2 separate regions of the Homo sapiens genome follow, and region 2 is linked to region 1. The links come from fine-mapping of genetic effects on gene expression. A gene starts in region 1. The other region holds a variant in brackets. All regions are shown on one strand. Distances are between the middles of the regions.

Region 1 (8,398 bases):
GGCTGGCCCTTAGTGGAGTCTGCAAACCTAGATTCAGGGAGTTAAGAGTGCCCCCAGAACCTACACTGTGCAAACGATATGGCTGACACTGAACAACTGCTTTCCTTCTGGGAGACTGGACTGTGGTTGCATGCATGGGGGCAGTGCCTACGTGACACGCCCCTGGTCTCTAGCGAGCTTTCCTGGTTGGCAACACCTCACCCACGTTTTCAGACCACATGGCTGGGGGCATGAGGGGCAACCTGCCTGACTCCACAGGGCGCGCTCTTAGAAGCTTGCACCTCAGCTCCTGCCTTCTCCCCACGCGCCTTTGCTGATCGCACCTGGCATCCTTTCTCCATAGTAAGTCACAGCCTGAGAGTGACTGCATGCGGAGTCCCGGGAGTCCTCCTAGTGAGCCAGCGAGCCTGGGCATAGTCTGGGGGATCCTTGATCCATCTGGGAAAGCTAACGATGCTCCTACCTGCTTTATTCCCTCTGAACGCAGAAACGGCTAAGGATCACTCATCTGTGATAACCATGTATGACTAAGGTAATCATATATGAGTCAGCCTGACAAGCAGTCACACGTATTACCTTCTATCTCTTTCCATTCGGTTATGCCTCTCCCTACGTTGAGACCTTCCTCCCTGGGGCCCACTCTGGGCCTGCTCCCCCAGGTTTGCCTGTGAGGACTCCGAGGACTGCCAAGCGCCTTGTGTGGCGGTGGCACCTTCGCCCACATTCTGAATCTCTCCAAGGGCTCTTCGCTCTACATTTGTGTCCAACTGACGCATTCTACTCCGATTCCTCTTCAGTGCTTGTTTGCATAGCGCTGCTTCTTTGCGAAAGAAGAAAAAAGTGGTTTTTAATTTTGTATTCTTATCTCAATTAATGCTGAATACAGTTTTGGCCTTTTCAATCCAAGATATAAACATTATTGGGTAAGCAGCACAGAGAACCGAAACACAAAGAGATGTACTAATGCAGTTTTTCAGCATCAGCAGGGACCATGAAGCCCAAGCCTATTTTATACAACGAAACTGAACAAGAATCAATCATCACACTAAATACGTTTTCCAAGTGCTATGCAACCAATATGACCTCATCCAAAGCCCCTCTTTTTAATTAACAGGTGTTATCTATGAATACAGAAAACAAGAAGTTGTTTACTTTTTCTAAAGGTCAGAATGGAAAAAAAAAAACAACAACAACAAACCACCTGGACATATTTCCTCCCAAAAATATTTTCTTTATATACAATTATTCTAAGAACAAGAAAAAAAAACAATTATTCTAATATGACAGTATTTTTACTGCAATGCTCAGAACAAAACTGCAGCAGCGTGTGTGTGTGCCCTCGCCGCAGAAGTGGCTCTCCTCCCCAAAGCAGGAAGAAGTAGCGTCCGAGCTTTTCTGCTGCGTGACAGGCTATGCCACGTGTGCGTCAGTGGAACTGTATCCATCAAAGGACCACAGGCACGTGACTGGCAGGCGTGCTCATGTGCACGCGTATGCCACACAAAGCACCCATTTCAGAAGGATGATGAAGCTTTCAGCAGGAGAGAGAGGAATTCGGTCGTTTTGGTGATATTTTATTCCTTAACCTGAGTAGTCGGCACAGAGGCTGCTTTAATACTCATCTTTGTATCTTACAAATGTGAACATATACTTTGGCATAAAATTTTATAGGGAGGAAAAGGAAGGACTGACATGGGAGAAGGCGGTAGCTCTTCCTCCCCATCTTGTCTTCACCAACTCTTGGAAAGCTAAGTGTAAGGAGTGTTCTTTTTTCGGGTCACTTCACAAATCAGTTTCCCAGGGAGGAAGGGGCTACGCAGGTGTTTCCCAGGGAGGAAGGGGCTATGCAGGTGTTTCCCAGGGAGGAAGGGGCTACGCAGGTGTTTCCCAGGGAGGAAGGGGCTACGCAGGTGTTTCCCAGGGAGGAAGGGGCTACGCAGGTGTTTCCCAGGGAGGAAGGGGCTACGCAGGTGTTTCCCAGGGAGGAAGGGGCTACGCAGGTGTTTCCCAGGGAGGAAGGGGCTACGCAGGTGTTTCCCAGGGAGGAAGGGACTATGCAGGTTAGCGCAGCAGTGCCTTCAGCAGTGACTTTATTTCCAAACTTTCCGAATCACCTTACAGCCTCTCCCTGGCAGCCCTAATAGGGTCCTCCTATTAGCAGCCACCTATCCAAAGGCTTTCGGCAGATGTTAGATGACTGCCTCACTCATCGAGTATAACATAAGGAAAATAAAAAACTATAAAGTACTTTCAGTAACTTGAAAATAACTGAAAATTTATGTAAGTCTATCACTTTACTGTTAAGAAAAAGCCCTCAAACGCAACGTTCTCACACCAAGATTAATTATGTTTGAGAATCAGAATAATGTTTAAAGCGAAAAGACAGGGAAGCGGGTGGACAGACCCCTGAGATACACAGACACCTCCAAGACTGTTTCACATGTGTACAAACCATCTGTCTCCCCTGCCCCCCAAGGCCAAAATGCCATCAGCCACAGGGCTCAGTCAGAAGAAAGCTCCCACTACCTGCTGCTTCATCGCTTACCTCCCACTTTAATCCAAACTTGCTCAGGCAAAACTTTGTTTCTACTACCTAACGTCTGTTTAGTGGATTCAATTTCTTGCTGATAACAGAAAGAAAATGCTCTAGGCAATCCAATATCCTGGTGCTTGGCAGCTTCAAGTACAGAACATGAGTTACTAGAACTCTGGAAAAAAATGAAGCAACAGGAATTTTATCAATATGTGGCTTACTCTCCTCTTTACTGCACAAATGAAATGCACTTAACAAACATCAAAACTACTAACACGTAATTTGAAGAACTTTAGTTGCACTGAAGATTTAAAAATATTCGCATACCACATAAACACTCAACTTTCACAGGTATTTTTTTGTTTTTGTTTTTTTGTTTTTTTTTTTGAGACAGGCTCTCACTCTGTCGCCCAGACTGGAGTGCAGGGTCGCGATGTCAGCCCACCACAACCTCCACCTCCCAGGCTCAAGCGATTCTCCCGCCTCAGCCTCCTGAGCAGCTGGGATTACAGGTGTCCGCCACTACCACCTGGTTAATTTTCGTACGGGGTTTCACCATGTTGGCCAGGCTAGTCTTGAACTCCTGAACTCAAATGACCCACCCACCTCGGCCTCCCAAAGTGCTGGGATTACAGGTGTCGGCCTTGGCGCCCGGCTTAAAAGGTTATTAAGCTCACTGAAGGGAAAAAAAAGTACTTGGGACCTAACCAAAATAAGTTAAAATTTACCCATTTAATACAAAAGAGCAAAGCTTCACAAATCATGTTCCCTACCTGTGTCTGTGAAAGATTAGAATTTCCACTAGTAGAGCAAGCATTTGTAGTAAACAGTGGGTATGTAAATTGCAAAGCAGTAGTTGTAGCCGCAGTTTTATTTTTCACTAATGCTGTACATTTGTTTTGTTGCTGAAGAGGAACATTCATTAGTTCAGATGGATGTCGAATGAGAGTTACCAAACTGCCAAGACAAAAGAAAGCCCAGAAGTGTCAGCAATACGTGGCAGACAAGCATCCACCATCCCACTCCCATGGCTCTGGCTAGTTTTTCCAGACAGCAACCCAACTCTCATCCTGGAAATCTCTACACAACAATTAGCAACTATCGCTGCTGTGGAAGTCCTCCTCTTCCTATGGAGGAAAAGCAAAACTGCGCCACCTCCCTGCTCTCATCACATCCTGACACCAATCTCACTTTTGCCATCCTCCAGTGTGACCACGATGGGCAACTACAGGCTGGGATGAGCAGAAAACTGCGGACGCAGCCCCTTCCACAGCCATCCCTGAGGGTCGCCAAGGGGGCGGCTGCAGGCTGGAGCCTCATTTTAGAGCTCAAAGCCTGCAAACCCCCGTCGGGCCTTCCTAGGCTTCCCTGACATCCAAGAGTGCCACCCGGAGCACATGGTTCCCAGGAATTCTGCGCGCTCGGCCCCACTCCAGGCGGGGCCACTGAGGGAGGGGGTGTTTAGTTTCTGGAAGTACCTGCTCCCCGGGGCCCGCACAGCGCACACAGCCTTTCGGGGCGGCCCCAGACCCGGTGAGGTCCGCGCCCTGTGCCGCCGGGAGGGCAGGCTGGGGGCGTGCACAGCGAGGGCCCCCTTTGCCTCCGCCCCGGCCCCGGCCCCGGCCTCGGCCTCCACCCGGGCCCCGCCAGCCCCCGGCCGCCGGGCACGCACTTGTTGAGCGCCCCGCCCGGCTCGGGGGGCTCGGGGCCGCGCGGCGCGGGCGGCGGCTCGGCGGGGATGCTGTTGAAGCGGTCCTCCAGGCGGACGCGCACGGCCGGCTTGGCCCGGGCCTCGGGCGCGCCGTCGGGTCCAGCCGCAGCCGCAGCCGCGCCCGCGCCCTCCTTGGCGGCGCCGTCGGCCCGGGCCCTCGCTCCGTCCCCGCCGCCCGACGTCTTCTCCGCCGCGCCCGCCTCGCTTAGCAGCATCATGCGCAGCTCCTGGAAGTCGATGTGGCCCAGGCAGGGCGCGTCGGCCGCCAGCGCGGACGGGCACAGCACGGGGTACACGGGCGCCGCGCCCCCCTGACCGCCCGCCGCGAAGCCGCCCGCGCCTGCGCCCGGGCCCGCCGCCGCCAGCAGCGCCGAGTTGAGGCGCGTCTCGAGCTCGCCGTCAGCCGCCGCCTCCATGTGCGAGCAGAGGATGTGCTGCAGCTGCGTGTACTCCACCTCCGTCATCTCCACCAGGCTCAGGTCGGTGGTCGTGAAGCTCAGCCCCGGCTCGCCCAGCGCCGCGTCCCCGCCGCCCGCGCCCTCGACGGCCGCCTCGCCGCCTGCCGCGCCTGCCTCCGGCGGCGGCTCCCGCGGTCCGGGGCCCGACATGGCGGCGCGGCGCGGCCCAACGGCGGCGAGGGCGACGCGGGCGGCGGGCGGCGGGAGGCGGGAGGCGGGAGGCGGGAGGCGACCCCCGGCCCGAGCACTACTCTGCGCCGGCCACAGCCGGCGCGCCGTTGGGGGAGGGAAAACCGCTGAGTGCCGCGCACAGCGCCTGCGCCGCCCCGCCCCGCAACGGCAACCCCACCCCTGCGCCAGCCCCGCCCCCTCCGTTACCCGCCGCCGCCGGCCCCGCCCCCGCCCAACCGCCCGCACGCCCGGCCCCGCCCCACGTCGGCGGATGCTTGCGCGGAGGGCCCGCCCCCACGGCCCAGCCACGCCCCCACAGCTAGGCCACGCCCCCAGCTCAGGCCACGCCCGGTTCCCAGCCACGCCCCTGCTGCCCGGCCACTCCCCGCTGAGGCCCGGCGAGGGCGGCTGCGCTGGAATCAGCGTGATACCTACGCGGTGACACCCTGGGGAGAAGCCACGTCCGTGCGTGCACGTGCGCCCCATTACAGCGGCAGGAATGAAGACGTTGTCAAAACAGCTCCCTGGACCCACAGTCCACAGTGCCCAGGCCATCCGCTTCATCCGCGTAAAATGCGCAGCGCATGGCCGGGTTCTGTGGCTCATGCCTGTAATCCCAGTACTTTGGGAGGCCGAGGCAGGTGGATCAGGAGGTCAGGAGATCGAGACCAGCCTGGCCAACATGGTGAAACCCCGTCTCTACTAAAAATACAAAAATTAGCTGGACGTGGTAGTGCGTGCCTGTAATCCCAGCTACTCGGGAGGCTGAGGCAGGAGAATCGCTTGAACCCGGGAGGCGGAGGTTGCAGTGAGTCGAGATCTTGCCACTGCACTCCAGCCTGGGCAACAGAGCCAGACTTCATCTCAAAAAAAAAAAAAAAATGCACAGCGCGACGGTGGTGGTACATTCCCAGCGCTGGGCCCGCCTCCACCGCTGCATTCACCACCGGTCTCCTGTAGCAGTCAGCACACTGCCCCTCCCCCGCCTGCAGCCACTAATCTTCTGTGTCCAGGAGTTTGCCTAGGCTGGGCCTTCCCTGTTAAGGGAACTATGCAATATGTGGTCTTTAAGAGACTTATTTTTGCAATCTTGAAATAATTCCTGTACTTAACCTCTCACCCACATTCCCATCTCACTCAGTGGTTGTCTGTTCTCTGTCTAGGCATTAGGACACTTAAAGGCCTGTGACTTGCACATCGTCTTCTAAGCCGGGTCTGAATCTTTCGCTCATTTCATCACAGTTTAGACACAGACCAATATATTACAATGATTCAACGATGGGCTATGAAAGCTCAGCCATGCAAATCTAAACTCACACATGTATACATGAAAATAATATATCAGTTTTGGGCAAAACATCAGGTTTCAGAAAACACTACCAAGGAGGAAAGCAAGGACTTAAAACTCTCAAGGACATGGCAACAGAAGTCGTCTAACGTAAAACAGAGAGGGAAGGCTAAGAGAGTGAGCAGAGCATCAGTGAGCTGTGGGGCCGCTTCAAGCAGTGTGATTTGAAGTCCCCTGGGGGTGGAAGGATGGGGAGAAAGACATTTTAAGAAGTAATGATTGCCAGGTGAGGTGGCTCACGCCTGTAATCCCAGCACTTTGGGAGGCCGAGGCGGGCAGATCCCTTGAGGTCAGGAGTTCGAGATCAGCTTGGCCAACATGATGAAATCTCGTGTCTACTAAAAATATAAAAAATTAGCCAGGTGTGGTGGCATGTGCCTGTAATCCCAGCTACTCAGGAAGCTGAGGCAGAAGAATCGCTGGAACCCGGGAGGTGGAGGTTTCAGTGAGTAGAGATTGCACCACTGCACTCCAGCCTGGGAGACAGAGCAAGACGCTGTCTCAAAAAACAAAAACAAAACAACAAAAAAAAATAATGATTGAAAAGTTTTTTTAAAACTACAAACCTACAGACCCAAGAAGTTTAACATACCTCAAACTCAAGAAACATGAAGGAAACTACACCAAGATGGAAAGCAAATTGCTTTATTTATTTATTTTTTTATTTTTTGAGATGGAGTCTTGCTCTGTCTCCCAGGCTGGAGTGCAATGGCACGATCTTGACTCAGCACAACCTCTGCCTCCTGGATTCAAGTGATTCTCCTGCCTCAGCCTCCTGAATAGCTGGGATTATAGGCATGTGCCACCATGCCTGGCCAATTTTTTGTATTTTTAGTAGAGACGGGATTTTGCCATGTTGGTCAGGCTGGTCTTGAACTCCTGACTTCAGGTGATCTGCCCACCTTGGTCTCCCGAATGCTGGGATTACAGGCATAAGCCACCGTGCCTGGCCTCAAATTGCTTTAAATCAGTGAAAAATCTTAAAAGCAGCTGTACACACACACACACACACACACAAGACATTGTGTACAGAGGAACAAAGATAAGAATGATTACAGGCCAGGCGCGGTGGCTCACGCCTGTAATCCCAGCACTTTGGGAGGCTGAGGCGGGCGGATCACAAGGTCAGGAGATCGAGTCCATCCTGGTAAACATGGTGAAATCCCATCTCTACTAAAAATAAAAAAAAATAGCTGGGTGTGGTGGCACAGGCCTGTAATCCCAGGTAACTCAGGAGGCTGAGGCACGAGAACCGCTTGAACCTGGGAGGTGGAGGTTGCAGTGAGCCAAGATCACGCCACTGCCCTCCAGCCTAGTGACAGAGCGAGAGACTCCTTCTAAAAAAATAAATGAAAAGATTGCAGTGATTGCAGACATTTCTTCAGGAATAATGCAAGTCAGAACAGAGTGGAATCACACCTTTGAAGTGCTGAGGGCAAGGGAGAAGCTGACTGATAGTGTCAGGCGTCTGTATTCACAGGCTCTGCGTCTGTGGATTCAACCAAGGATCAAAAATACTCAGAAAAAAATTACTTGCACCGAAATGCACAGACTGCTCTTCCTTGTCATTATTCCTTAAACAATATGGTATAACAAGTATTCATTTAGCATGTACATCGCATGAGGTATTATAAGTAATCTCGATATGTATATATTTTAGAAACAGGGTCTCGCTCTGTCTCCCAGGCTGGAGTAGGATAATACGGTTATAGCTCACTGCAGCCTCGACCTCCTGAGCTCAACCAATCCTCCTGCATGACTCTGCCGAGTAGCTGGGACCACAGGCACACACCACCATGCCCTGCTAATTTTTATTTTATTTTATTTTTTGTAGAGATGGTATCTTACTATGTTGCCCAGGCTGGTCTTGAACTCCTGGCCTCAAGTGATCCTCCCACCTCAGCCTACCAAATTACAGAGATTACAGGTGTGAGTCATCACGCTCGCCGCTACAGATGATTTAAAGTGTATGGAAGAATGTGCATAGGTTATATGGAAACACTATGACATTTTGCATAAGGGACTTGAACATTCGTGGATTTTGGTACCCATGGCAGGTACTGGAACCAATCCCCCAGGGATACTGAGGAATAACTGTAGTTCTATGCCCAGCAAAGATATTTTTCAAAAACAAAGGCAAAATAAAGACTTTTTTGCACTTACAAAAGCTAAAATAA
Region 2 (8,261 bases), 19 kb before region 1:
ACTCCGTCTCCATAAAAGAAAAAAAAAATGTGAGGAATGGCCGGGTGCGGTGGCTCATGCCTGTAATCCCAGCACGTTGGGAGGACGAGGCAGGTGGATTACTGGAAGTCAGGAGTTCAAGACCAGCCTGGTCAACATGGTGAAACCCCGCCTCTACTAAAAATACAAAATTAGCCAGGCAAAACACAGATGTAAGATTTGAATGACGCAATTAGAGGGATGTGAAAATGCCCTTAGGTGAACCATGGGTGGAAAATCATTTAAAACATGATTACAAAATATTAATAAATACTCAACTGCTTAATAGGCATAAATATTTTGAACAAAACTAAAATCCCATTTAAATTGGCTGCCAGAGGTCAGGGAGGTGGTTCAGCCGTGCACGGCTCAGCAGCAGGCATAGGTTCTGACGGCTGTGCCACTGGGCGGTTTCACTGTGGAACATCTGAGTTCACTTACGCAAGCCCGGCCTCCTGCACCCCTGGGCCGTGTGCCAGAGCCTGGGGTTTATGGCTGCAGACCTGCACAGCCTGTTACTGGGCTGGGTCTTGTGGGCGGTTCTAACCTGGTGGTGGGTATCTGTGTTAAATACATCCAAACACGGGAAAGGAATGGTAAAAATTGGGTATGATAATCTTAAGGGACCACTGTCACCTATGCGGTGCGTCGTCCACCTGCAGCCGTCCTGCAGTCTAAGACTGTGTACAGGTGGGTCCCTCTCGTCGGACCCCGTCAAGCCCTACGCGTGTGACATCTGTACTTTTCTAAATGTTTCCACTTCAGTGAAAAGCTGGCACCCTGTTTGTTACAAAGGTTGATCAGACACCGCTGTGGTGTGGCTGCAACAGATACTCTAACCATATGTCTGTGTCCACACCTCGTGACAGGAAACCAGGGTGACAGAGGAGACAAAGGCGCGGCAGGAGCAGGGCTGGACGGGCCTGAAGGAGACCAGGGGCCCCAAGGTACGAGTCCACGGCCAGCAAGGCTTCACTGGGTGACATCTCTTCCGCCATCTTGTAGCTTTATGTGGGGCGTGCTTGGGTTATGAATGGGTCTCTTTTCCTCTTCTCTTGGCAAAGCAGTCTTAGAGACAAGATTAGGAATTGTCTCAATAACCACTTTAATACATAAAAGTTTAATCGGGGCTGGGCGCGGTGGCTTACACCTGTAATCCCAGCACTTTGGGAGGCTGAGGCAGACGGATAACCTGAGGTCAGCAGTTTGAGACCAGCCTGGCCAACACAGTGAAACCCCATCTGTATTAAAAATACAAAAATGAGCCGGGCGTGGTGGCGGGCGCCTGTAATCCCAGATACTTGGGAGGCTGAGACAAGAGAATCGCTTGAACCCGGGAGGCGGAGGTTGCAGGTTGCAGTGAGCCAAGATGGCGCCACTGCCTTCCAGCCTGGCGACAGAGCGAGACTCCATCTCAAAAAAAAAAAAGTTTAATCAGTAAGCAGATCCTCCTGGATCTATTTTAGCTAAGTCAATTTGGTTAGATTCTGTTTAAGCTACTCAGTATCTATTTCAGTTAAAGTATAACAGAATTTTCTCTTAATTGACCTGTGCATACGTTGAATATTTCCATTTCTAATGTCAAAAATAAATGCTTTGTCACGGAGGGAGGCAGCGCCAGGATCCTTGGCAAAGGCCATCCCCTGCCCGCCCCTGTCTTAGCCTGGTGCCTTCTCAAAACCAGGAGGCCTTAGACTCCAAGGATGTGTGTGTCCAGATGAGAAGGATCCCGAACAGTCTTCGAGAAGGCACCCGCTCCCACCTCTGCCTGGGTGCCCTGGAGCCTTCTCCTCTCCTCTCCTCCACGCACTCACACTGCTCTCTGGATGCCCTGGAGCCCTCTCCTCTCCTCCACCCACCCCACCTCTCCCTGGGTGCCCTGGAGCCCTCTCCTCTCCTCCACCCACCCCACCTCTCCCTGGGTGCCCTGGAGCCCTCTCCTCTCCTCCACCCACCCCACCTCTCCCTGGGTGCCCTGGAGCCCTGTCCTCCCCTCCATGCACGCACGCTGCTCTCTGGGTGCCCTGGAGCCCTCTCCCCTTCTCCCCTCCACGCACACACACTGCTCTCTGGGTGCCCCATGCTCCTGGACTCTCCTTTGCTGACCTAGCTCTGCCTCTACCTGGTGTCCAAACGCACAGGGGTCCCAGGCCCCAGCCACGTCTCTCCGCCTGTGGCTCTGAACAGCATCTGTGTTGCACTTGCTGGTGGACAGCAGCCTCCCGGCCGCACCATGCCCGCACCATGCCCACACCATGCCCGCACCATTCTGGACTTTGTCACCTCATCTCAGTGAAGGGCTCTGACACCCCCCACTTAGGCGGCTGACTCCCTCTTCCCTCACACCCAGGCCTCCCATGTTTCCACTGTCATCACTCACCAAAGCCACCCCACAACCCCCCACTCCGGGCCCCCTGCTCACTCCAAATCCACTCCTTACTCACACAGCCCCCACCAAACCCGCGTAAGTCAGAGTGCGGGTGTCCTCAGGACGGCTCTGCACCCCTGCCTGGGGCTGGCCGCGCCTGGCCTTCCCCGGACACTCCCGACCGCCAGCCCCGCGGAGAGCCTTTGTGTGCCGTTCCCTCGGCCTCCCCACCCGCTGTGGCCTCTCCCCAAGTGAAGAGTGAGCAGATGGAAGAGCAGGGCTTGCCCACAGCTGGATGTCAAGTCCCCCTGCTTTCAGTCCGGGCTGCAGCTGAACTCACCTTTCTGCTCTGTCCCAAGGACCCCAAGGCGTGCCCGGCACCAGCAAGGACGGCCAGGACGGTGCTCCCGGCGAGCCTGGGCCTCCCGGAGATCCTGGGCTTCCAGGTGCCATTGGGGCCCAGGGGACACCGGGGATCTGCGACACCTCAGCCTGCCAAGGAGCCGTGTTAGGAGGGGTCGGGGAGAAATCAGGCTCTCGAAGCTCATAAAATTCAACGTGAGGAAGCAAGTGACAAGGACGCCCGAAGCACAGTGGACGGTCATGAAGGAGCGGGGGTGTGGCAGGCGGGTGACGTCCAGGAGAGGGAGCGCCCCTGGCTGCCCCTCGGCCGCCGACTGGACGCGCGGGCCTTGCCAGCGAGCACCCTCATCGGGCTGTCGCCTGACAGCATACCTCAAAAGGCCCTAGCTAATAAACCTGTAAGCCCAGCATTTGAGAGAAGGTAGGGTGTGTATATATAAAAGGTTGTGTACAACTCCACGAGGTGAAAAATATTCAGTAACTTGTTTACATAGCATTTGTGTAAAGACTATGATCTCATCCCAATAAAATGATATATTAAACCTTCAGATTAATGACTGGCTACAGAGTAACAAAAAATAAAGAATTTAATGTACAGTAAATTCTCTCCCATACAAAGGTCTAGTCTGATGTTTTGTGTACAAACTC[A/ACATCT]CATCTCCAATTAACAGTATTTATTGAGGGTGACTTTGTATTGCACTAACGTCTATTGCTATTACCTGTTGTGATTGATAAGTAAAGCCACTCATTGAAAAACCCAATTCCAAACACCACAGTTTGTGACACATGAAGTAATGAATGACTCTTGGTATGAAAACGTGGCATTTAAGCGTCTACTGTGACAGTATTTCATTTGTGGACAAAAGTAGCTTTAAAGCAAGTATCTGGAAAATTTTTAGCACACAGGTTTAAAATGGTCCTGCACGTTGCAATACAGCAGCACGTGACTCAGAGTCATGACAAGGGGGTGTGATATAACGAATGAAATAAAATTTCCAAACTGTTTTTAGTTAACAATTTAACTTGTTCCAATTGCTAAAGGGGCATATTTAAAAGGTAAATAAGTAAAAAGCCGTGTACTTTTTAAGATTAAAGAAAGTACAAAGGATGTCAATTTTTTAAGTTATCATGTTAAGAAAACATGATGGAATCAGAGCATTGAGAAAATGCTTACTAATTATTACTAATTAATTATTACTAATTATTAAGATGGCTTCATCCCCAAATGGTCTAAGAGGACATTCATGGATAAGCATTTGCGTCTAGATAAATATTTTTACAAAATGTGCTCTCAAAGTCCCTACTGGAGTCCCGTCAGCTTGAGTCACGCCCTTTTCGAGTCAGACTAGCCGAGCAGAGCTCCAGGGTTGCAGAAGGCGTGCACAGGTCACGAAGGAATGGCTGTTCACCCCCCGAGGATTCCTGTTCAGTCCGATCACTTGATCTCCATCGAGGGGCTGCTCTGTAAACTCCCCTGTGCAGGACAGGTCACCAAGGAGTCCGGTCTGGTCAGCTTTAGCCTTCGGCCAGTTTTACCGCAAAATACGCTCTCAAATTCCTGCAGTGAAGAAGTGACGGTTAACATACTGAATTAACTGACATGAAAACTGCTGTCTTCCAAAGTGCAAAAGGTTCAAATTAAGAGCTAAGTAAATGACTTTAGAATACGCTGTTTTAAGGTGTCATTCACAAACTTGTGTCTTACCTCACAAGGGGATTTATATAATAAACAGATTTTAACTTTTTTTTTTTCAAATAGCAGTTACACTGTACATGTACTTTTGTTTTTCCAATACTCAGAATGTCTGGCCACACTGTATTGATTTTATTGTGGTAAAATATACATGACATGAACGTTTCAACCGCTAATGGGCCCTAGCTAATAAACCTGTAAACCCAGCGTGTGAGAGAAGGTAGAGTGTATATATTAAAACGTTTCAGGCCGGGCGTGGCGGCTCACGCCTATAATCCCAGCACTTTGGGAGGCCGAGGTGGGTGGATCACCTGACGTCAGGAGTTCAGGACCAGCCTGATTAACATGGTGAAACCCCATCTCTACTAAAAATACAAAAATTAGCTGGGCGTGGTGGCAAGCATCTTGTGACCCCAGCTACTTGGGAGGCTGAGGCAGGACAATCTCTTGAGCCTGGGAGGTGGAGGTTGCAGTGAGCCGAGATCATGCCATTGCACTCCAGTCTGGGCAACAAGAGTGAAACTCCGTCTCAAAAAAATAAATTTTTAAAAAGTTTCAACAATTAACAAGTCAGGGGCATCTACCCCCACCCCAGGGCGACTGCCTTGCCCTCTGCACTGCCACACACTCAGGGTTCCAAGGCCAGCAAGGTGGAGGTGCTGCTCGCTGAGATGGCTCTGTCCTTGGGGAGACCCTGCCAGCAGGGTGGGGGTGGGCTGAGCTTGCTCCTGTCACACCACCTGTCTTTTACAAAAGGCCTCAATTATAATGGTGGGGTCAGTCTCAACCTCCCGAAGGAGACTGAGAGGAAGAGAGGGGCACAGGCGACGGCCCGATGACAGGCGCCAACCACCACGGGCAGAATGTGGAAACGTCTACGGGACAAATCATTCCCTTTTCAACAAATGAACGGTGAGGAAGAAAGGAAGGGGGAACTATTACGGGTTAAGATATATTTAAAAACTATCAACCAAATGTGATGTTTGGATCCTGATTCAAATGAGCTGACCGTAGAGACACCTGTGGGCTCACGGGAGATTCTGCTCAGATTCGGGAAGGAGACTCAGGTGGGTAATAAGGAGTGAAGGCTTTCAGGAAGGAGACTGATAATGCGGTTGTGTTTTTAAACAGGCCTTTTCTTTCGGAAGATATATTTATGAATGAAATGATGTCTGGAATTGTTTTAAAATAATTCAGCGGGGGTGGGAGGGCGAGGGGATAGGTGAAACAAGCTGATGCCTGAAACTGAGTTAGAGGGACCTGGGAGTTCACTTTCTATTTCTGTGCAGATTTGAAAATTTCCATAAGTTGGTTTTAAAACATAGCATTCTACACGATTAAATCCAGGTTTATACAGTTTTTATTGTGGTATTAAAATATAGCATAAAATTTGCCTTTTAAGCATGTGTAAGTGTACAGTGGAGCAGCGTGAAGTCCACTCACAGTGCTGTGCAGCCGCCACCACCTTTTCATCACCCTAAACAGAAACTCCGTACCCATTAAACACTAACTCCACACCGCTCCGGCCCCCAGCCCCTGGCACGTACCAGTCCACTTTCTGTCTCTCTGAATCTGACGGCTCTAGGTGCCTTGTTTACGGAATCCCGCAGGGTGTGCCCTGTTGTGACTGGCTTATTTCACTCAGCATAATGACCTCGGGCCATCCATGCTGTAGCCTGTGTCAGAATTTCATTCCTTTTCATGGCTGAGTAAGATTCTGTTGTGTGCTTGTAACACATTTGTTTACTCATTCCTCTGCTGGAGCACACTTGAGTCATTTCCACCTTTTGGCCACTGTGAAAGGTGCTGCCATGAATATTCATAGAAAAGCATCCATTTGGGTCCCTGTTTCACCTCTTTGGGGTTTATGCTTCTCTGGTGATTCTATGTTGAACCTTCTGAGGAGCTGTCATACTGTCTTCCACAGTGGCTGCACCATTTCACACCCCCAGCGGCAAAGCACAGGGATTCTGATGTCTCCACATCCTTGCCAACACTTGCTATTTTGCTTTTGTTTTTGTTTTTGAATAGCCATCCTAGTATGTGTAAAAGTAGTATCTCATTGGGTCTTGATTCGTATTTCCCTAATGACTAACGGCTTGGCGCATCTTTCATGGGCTTATTGGCCATCTGTGTATCTTCTCTGGAGAAATGTCTATTCAAGTTCTTTGCCCATTTTTCAGTTGTGCTGTCTTTTTTTTGGACAGGGTCTTGCTCTCTCAGGCTGGAATGCAGTGGCACATCCACGGCTCACTGCAGGCTCAGCCTCCCGAGTAGCTGGGACTACAGGTGCACACCATCACGCCTGGCTTTCAACATTTTTTTTCTGTTTTTTTTTGTTTGTTTTTTGTTTTTTTTTTTTTGAGACCGAGTCTCACTCTGTCACCCAGGCTGGAGTGCAACAGCGTGATCTCAGCTCACTGCAACCTCCACCTCCCTGCAACCTCTGCCTCCTGGGGTTCAAGCAATTTTCCTGCCTCAGCCTCCTGAATAGCTGGGATTACAGGCACCTGCCACCACACCCGGCTAATTTTTGTTTTTTTAGTAGAGACAGGGTTTCACCATGTTGGCCAGGCTGGTCTCAAACTCCTGACCTCAGGTGATCCACCCACCTCGGCCTCCCAGAGTGCTGGGATTACAGGCGGGAGCCACGGTTCCCAGTCTGTGTAGTCTTTTTGTTGCTGAGTTGTAGTAACTTTCTACTTAATTCAAGTCCAGGAGGACACAAGCGCCATGCTGCCATGGATTTAACTTCTGAACCACCTGGAGTGACTGGAACATTCCACCCATCCACTTTTAAGCAACTTTCCAACCAAGCAAGCTGCCATTTCCAACTACTGTGTGCACTCAGAATCTACACCTGCATATAAATATACTCATTTTCTTCCCAATTTTTTTTTTTTTTGGATATGGAGTTTCACTCTTGTCGCCCAGACTGGGGTGCAATGGCACGATCTCAGCTCACTGCAACCTTTGCCTCCTGGGTTCAACTGATTCTCCCACCTCAGCCTCCTGAGTAGCTGGGATTACAGGCATGTACCACCACGCCCGGCTAATTTTTGTATTTTTAGTAGAGACGGGGGTCACACCGTATTGGCCAGGCTGGTCTCGAACTCCTGACCTCAGGTAATCTGCCCACCTCAGCTTCCCAAAGTGCTGGGATTACAGGCGTGAGCTACGACGCCCAGCTTCTTCCCAAATTTTAAAAGGTTTTAGGATGCAATTTAAAATGACCCCACATTTTGATAATTTCCTATATTCTGACACCTAAAGCCTACATATAAAAAACACTTGCCTATTTGGCAAGATAGAATTCACCTTTCAGGACAATTAAATGAAAGTCAGAGCCTGGGCCGGCTCCGGAGAAGTTAGACCCTCGGAGCTGGTCTCGGACTGCTGGGGCGTCACCCCTTCAGCAACCCCCGCTGACCATGGCAGTATTTCATGACGAGGTGGAAATCGAGGACTTCCAATATGACGAGGACTCGGAGACATATTTCTGTCCCTGCCCATGCGGAGATAACTTCTCCATCACCAAGGAAGAGCTGGAGAATGGGGAAGGTGTGGCAATGTGTCCAGGCTGCTCTCTCATTATAAAAGTGATTTATGACAAAGATCAGTTTGCGTGTGGAGAAACAGTGCCAGTGCCTTCAGTCAACAAAGAATGAGTTAAATGCTAAGGAAGCCTTCAGGAATCCGAACCCTGAACAGCTGGAAATGAGCCCAGATAGAAACTTCAAATGCAAAGCTCCTGGCTTCGTGGAGACACAGCCATTTGTGATTTGCTGTTCTGTAGGCGTGTTGTGGATTCTTTCCATCAACTGC

The links. PIP is the estimated chance that this variant, and not a neighbour inherited with it, causes the effect. A credible set is the group of variants that fine-mapping cannot tell apart.
Region 2: its variant is the best candidate, but not a certain one, in a credible set for the expression of TCFL5 in hippocampus (GTEx, PIP 0.78).

What each region holds. Positions count from the first base shown.
Region 1 is chr20:62,856,819-62,865,216 of GRCh38, forward strand. TCFL5 (transcription factor like 5) reads right to left here and starts at 5,004. Exons shown (of 6, transcript NM_006602.4): 1 at 4,206-5,004; 2 at 3,307-3,490; 3 at 2,546-2,708; 4 at 577-820. The coding sequence starts at 4,852. It overlaps LOC105372717 (a long non-coding RNA gene), which reads left to right and starts at 4,617. Exons shown (of 4, transcript XR_936989.4): 1 at 4,617-4,723. RefSeq lists silencers at 4,423-4,572, 5,073-5,262, 5,313-5,412 and an enhancer at 4,797-5,451.
Region 2 is chr20:62,837,797-62,846,057 of GRCh38, forward strand. It overlaps COL9A3 (collagen type IX alpha 3 chain), which reads left to right. Exons shown (of 32, transcript NM_001853.4): 31 at 888-965; 32 at 2,746-3,363. The coding sequence ends at 2,936. It overlaps TCFL5 (transcription factor like 5), which reads right to left. Exons shown (of 6, transcript NM_006602.4): 6 at 3,209-4,301. The coding sequence ends at 4,179. It also overlaps the pseudogene DPH3P1. Among named protein-coding and RNA genes, the nearest start is that of TCFL5, 20 kb to the right of the region's middle. The variant A/ACATCT (reference allele first, on the strand shown) is at 3,398.